Linked DNA regions of Homo sapiens: region 2 is linked to region 1. Evidence: fine-mapped expression QTL. A gene starts in region 1. The other region holds a variant in brackets. All regions are shown on one strand. Distances are between the middles of the regions. Region 1 holds the start of BEST1 (bestrophin 1). Region 2 has its middle 11 kb from the start of FTH1.

The links.
Region 2: its variant is fine-mapped to the expression of BEST1 in whole blood (TOPMed, PIP above 0.99).

The regions. Positions count from the first base shown.
Region 1 is chr11:61,948,697-61,951,608 of GRCh38, forward strand. It overlaps BEST1 (bestrophin 1), which reads left to right and starts at 1,655. Exons shown (of 11, transcript NM_004183.4): 1 at 1,655-1,731.
Region 2 is chr11:61,977,357-61,980,268 of GRCh38, forward strand. No RefSeq gene overlaps it. Among named protein-coding and RNA genes, the nearest start is that of FTH1, 11 kb to the left of the region's middle. RefSeq lists a silencer at 1,025-1,241. The variant A/C (reference allele first, on the strand shown) is at 1,463.

The DNA.
Region 1 (2,912 bases):
ATCAGTTGAGGACAGCGATGGGGCAGCGGGGAGGCAGTAAATACTCCTACAAGGCTGCCTCTAAAGAGAGTCTTATAATAACAACAGCTTTATTGTTTGCCATGATTAGAAAAGTATTCAAGGTCATTGCGAAATAGTGTTTTTTTTTCTAGGCAGATAATTATATAAAGGCAAAAATGGTGTGTGGGGGTGGGGGACAAGGGGAGGGAGAGCATTAGGACAAATACCTAATGCACGCAAGGCTTAAAACCTAGATGATGGGTTGACAGGTGCAGCAAACCACCATGGCACACGTATACCTATGTAACAAACCTGCACATCATGTATACCTATGTAACAAACCTGTACATTCTGCACACGTATCCCAGAACTTAAAGTGAAAAAAAAAGTGGTGTGTAGAAAAATCACCTGCAATCTCAGCATAGTTAACGCTTAGTACATTTCAGAGAGAGAGGGTGACAGGAAAGGGAGGATGAGAGTGGGTTTAAGACACAAGGTCATATTATAAAATCAGGGCTTCTGGAAGTTTAGTCCCAAAACCACACATCTCATAATCCCCTGCAGTGCTTGATTAAAATGCAACATCCCTAAGGCCACAGACTCAGACTCTGGAGAAAGATCCAGAAAACTGCCCGTTTAATAAACATTTGGGCGATTCTTACGGCCTCTAAAGACCAAGAACCACTGCTGCCTAGAGCTCTGCTCTCTTCATTGAACAATACAAGAGGAGTGTGTAGGTAGACACCCACCACTTCCAACAGCTTAGGAGAGCCCTTGAGTATGGATTGATGTATTAAAATTTATTGAATCACATGCTGAGATTTTCACCAGCTGCCCGTGGGGATCTGGGCATTTATTCCCATATTGCACTGGCTGGCTGGAAGCCAGCAGCATAAACTCCAGGGCTGTTCTGTCAACCCCCACCAGACTCACCCCCCTCCACCAGCCCCGGCAGGCTTCTCCTTCCATCTCTCTGAAGCAACTTACTGATGGGCCCTGCCAGCCAATCACAGCCAGAATAACGTATGATGTCACCAGCAGCCAATCAGAGCTCCTCGTCAGCATATGCAGAATTCTGTCATTTTACTAGGGTGATGAAATTCCCAAGCAACACCATCCTTTTCAGATAAGGGCACTGAGGCTGAGAGAGGAGCTGAAACCTACCCGGGGTCACCACACACAGGTGGCAAGGCTGGGACCAGAAACCAGGACTGTTGACTGCAGCCCGGTATTCATTCTTTCCATAGCCCACAGGGCTGTCAAAGACCCCAGGGCCTAGTCAGAGGCTCCTCCTTCCTGGAGAGTTCCTGGCACAGAAGTTGAAGCTCAGCACAGCCCCCTAACCCCCAACTCTCTCTGCAAGGCCTCAGGGGTCAGAACACTGGTGGAGCAGATCCTTTAGCCTCTGGATTTTAGGGCCATGGTAGAGGGGGTGTTGCCCTAAATTCCAGCCCTGGTCTCAGCCCAACACCCTCCAAGAAGAAATTAGAGGGGCCATGGCCAGGCTGTGCTAGCCGTTGCTTCTGAGCAGATTACAAGAAGGGACTAAGACAAGGACTCCTTTGTGGAGGTCCTGGCTTAGGGAGTCAAGTGACGGCGGCTCAGCACTCACGTGGGCAGTGCCAGCCTCTAAGAGTGGGCAGGGGCACTGGCCACAGAGTCCCAGGGAGTCCCACCAGCCTAGTCGCCAGACCTTCTGTGGGATCATCGGACCCACCTGGAACCCCACCTGTGAGTACAAGGTGCCCCAGGTGGACTGGGCTGGGGCTTTGAGGCCTTCAGGGTTGGATGGCCATCTTGCGTATTTGTGTGGGATATGCACACACAGGCAGCACATGCGCAGGTGTGTGGGCACCTGTGTGTCTGTGCAAATGCCCTGAGGTGGGAATGAGCTTGGTGTGCATCAGGCACAGCCAGCCAGTGTGGCTGCAGCAAAACACACAGGGAAAGAATGGAGGGGGCATCAATCACTGCTTCAGTAAATTTTTATTGAGCGCCTTCTACGAGAACACAAGAGGAGCTTCCATTCTGAGGAGGAAACAGGCAGGAAACAGGCAGATATCCTGTATAATTTCAAGTAGTGATAAGTGCTCTCTAGAAATATCAAGCAAGGTGAGGAGACACAGAGCACCGGTGGCAGTGGGGCTCTATTTCCAGGTTGGATGGTTGGGAACATCCTTTCTAAAGGGAACCTGGAGTGGGAAGGAACCATGCAGGTATCTCAGGAAGAGCTTCCTCCAGGCAGGAAGATCAGCAGGTGGAAAGGCCCTGGAGCCACCATTCAGTAAACATCATTTGAGCATCTCTACCAGCTAGGTTCCATTATGGGAATGGGAATATGGTGGTGGACAGGGCTGCCTGGTCCCTTCCATACTTCTCACACTAGGGTGGTTGAGAGAGCTTGGGAGCTAACGAACAAGATGGGCTGAGAACACTGCCTAGCCCAGAGGACCTGAGCTTAGTGTGTAGACATTGCTGCTGTTACTGCCTTTGTCATTGTATTATTTATTTATTTATTTATTTATTTTTAGACAGAGTTTTGCTCTTCTTACCCAGGCTGGAGTGCAATGGCGTGATCTCAGCTCACTGCAACCTCCACCTCCTGGGTTCAAGCGATTCTCCTGCCTCAGCCTCCTGAGTAGCTGGGATTACAGGCACCCGCACCACGCCTGGATAATTTTTTTGTATTTTTAGTAGAGACAGGGTTTCACCATGTTGGCCAGGCTGGTCTCGAACTCCTGACCTTAGGTGATCCACCTGCCTCGACTTCCCAAAGTGCTGGGATTATAGGCATGAGCCACTGCGCCCAGTGATTATAGAAAGTTAAAGGCACATGGCAATGCACACGCCTATCTACGTCTTCCCTGCCAAAGCAAAGGGCAGCCTCTGGGCTCACTTTCTTGCGTTTCTAC
Region 2 (2,912 bases), 29 kb after region 1:
ATGGGAAGGGGCTTTACATGCTATTACCTTTCTCATCTGTTTCCAGCTGCACGGATGATATGCTAACCCCCTGTCAAACATCCCTGCCTTTTGTAATTCTTTGAAAGCATTAGTTGGAACCAAGTGGCTCTCGTTTTTCCCCACTATTTACTCACCTATCCAGCTGCCCTTTCAATATCGTGGGTGTGTATGTGGGTGGACAGGGGTGTGTATGTGTAGTGGCAGGAATCCGGATGTTTTGCTTTTTGCTTTTTTCTGGAATTGATTTCTCCAGATCCATACCTACTCCCCAATATCCACCTGTCTTCTGGACACTAGATCCAGATTTTCCTCTGGGGAACTATTTCCCTCCCTCCAACCTCTGTGATGTGCTATAATTGGAACTGCCTCCATCCCTAGATTCAGGGATAGACATGTTTTGTTTTACTTGCAACAGATTTTTCAGTCAACTTACCTTTTATATCAGGGGTCCCCAACCCCTGGTCCATAGACTGGTACCGAAGGTGCATAGACTGTGCACCTCCAGGCTGCATGGCAGGAGGTGAGCAGTGGGTGAATGAACATTACCTCCAAGCTCTGCCTGCTGGTTATCCCAGCTCTGCCTCCTGTCAGATCAGCAGTGGCATTAGCTTCTCATAGGAGTGTGAACCCTACGGTGAACTGCACGTGACAGGGATCTAGGTTGTGCGCTCCTTATGAGAACCTAACTAATGCCTGATGATCTGAGGTGGAACAGTTTCATCCTGAAACCATCTCCCTCCCCCACCCCTTGTCCATGGAAAAAATTGTCTTCCACAAAACCGGTGCCTGGTGTCAAAAAGGCTGGGGACCACTGTTTTACATCATCTAAATGGCAACTGATTCCTGCATGGGTCTCAGAATTTTCAAGACAGGAAGGAGCCTTTGAGACTATCTAATACTTTCAATCACTCAACTAATGTTTTTATTTTGTTATTATTTTTTTAAAAATAGAGACAGGGTCTCAACTCTGTCACCGAGGCTGGAGTGCAGTAGCACGATCGTAGCTCACTGCAGCCACCAACTCCTGGGCTCAAGTAGTCCTCCCACCTCAGCCTCCTGAGTAGCTGGGATTACAGGTGCATGCCACTACACCTGGCTAATTAGAGCAATTTTTGATGGGGTCTCACTATATTGCCCAGGCTGGTCCCAAACTCCTGACCTCCAAAGATCCTCCTGCCTCAGCCTCCCCAAAGCTTGGGATTACAGGCCTGAGCCACTGCACTTGGCTTCAAACATTTTTAAATGCCAGCTCTATGCCAGTCCTTGGGTTAGATGAAGAAAATGATATCTGGGGCTGGGGATTTGGGGTGACCAGATCAGGGTTACAGGGAAAGTCGGTGGCTGAGCCAAGGACCAAAACCTAGGCCTTCTGACTCCCACACCAGCCTTCTTTCCTCATGCTTCTCTGCTTCCTGAGATTAAATTCTTCTGGCAGTGCTCA[A/C]GTACGGTTATGTGATTATGAAAAAACACAGGGAACTCTGTGCCAAGCAGCTATCATTGGTTTCCTGGGCAGGGTTGCAGAGAAAGAGGAGAAGGACAAAGGAACTTCTCCCACCCCTGTGTGCCAGCCTCAGCTCTCTGGCGGGGGGCAAAACAGGCTCGTGGGGCTGCCTGAGGGCTTGTCCTCTGGTGTCCCTCCTCTGGGCCCCAACAGTCCTCTGCTTCATCCACACCAGCCCCTGGGGTGCCCCACCGCACCCCTGGTCCCCCGCCTCTGTCCTTTGTTGAAGTCTTTCCTCCCCTAGCTGTTCACTTTTATCTATCAAAGATCCACCCTTTCTCCAAGCTGCAGTCCAGATCCTGCCTCTGCCGAGAAGTCTTCCTGGATTCAGAGCTTGTCTCTTATTCCTGCTAATGTTTATTCCTTCGGCCTTTACTGAGTGACAGGAGGCCCTGTGCCATTGCATCATCATAGGGGAGGCTCGTAGGAAGGCATCATAGGAGGCTTGTAGGAAGCTGGTCTTCATCTCTGCTCCCAGGAATGGGACCAGGCCCTGGCACCTGGCAGGGCCTCAGCTAAGACTCTGGTTGGATGTGATTGAATCATCGTGAGAAAGGGGAATCCTTGCCCTGCTGGGGGGCGAAACGGGGGGTAAAGTTAGGACCCCCTGCCCTGCCCCATCTCACAAGCGTTGTGAAAAGGTCTTGAGCTTTGTCTGACTGGGTCTCGCTTGAGCCAGTACTGCCCCGTGAGAGATGGTTCTTTGCACTTAACTCCAGGTAACGGAGGGCCCATCCTGCAGTTTCCCCTTAAGAGCCTGGAATGGGAGCCTCGGGAGTTGGAACTGGTCTCTGGAGTTTGCCTTAAGCCCAACCAGCTTGGTCAGCTCTTTAGCCCAAAACTCCTGTATTCCAAGGGCAGGGGTCCTCAGGCCCAAGCTCCACCCAGCTGGGTGGGTTAGACTCAGACTCTTTTCTTAAAAATGAATCAAGTAAGAATAAAAACTAATACTTATTAATAAAAGCAGATACTTCTTGACCCCTTACTACATAGGCCAAACATGTCATTCGACAGATGAGGAAACTGAAGCACAGAACTACAAAGTACCTTGCCCAAGGACACACACCTGCTGTTCCAGTCCAGAGCCCACACTCTGAACCGCTCCTTGTCCCCACCCACTGCCCAGATCATTCGGCTCCATCCTGTTATCCACTTGTCATTCCACTGTTTGCCCATGGTGCCTCCCATATGGGGATTTAGTAAATGCTTATCAAATGGGGGTGCTTATTGAATTTGAGATTTCTGTTTGTTTACCAGGTTATCCCTAGCAAGGCATGGAGGGAATAAGGGGGAACAACAAAAATGCTGGATGCTGGGCTGGGCGCGGTGGCTCGCGCCTGTAATCCCAGCACTTTGAGAGGCTGAGGCGGGCGGATCACCTGAGGTCAGG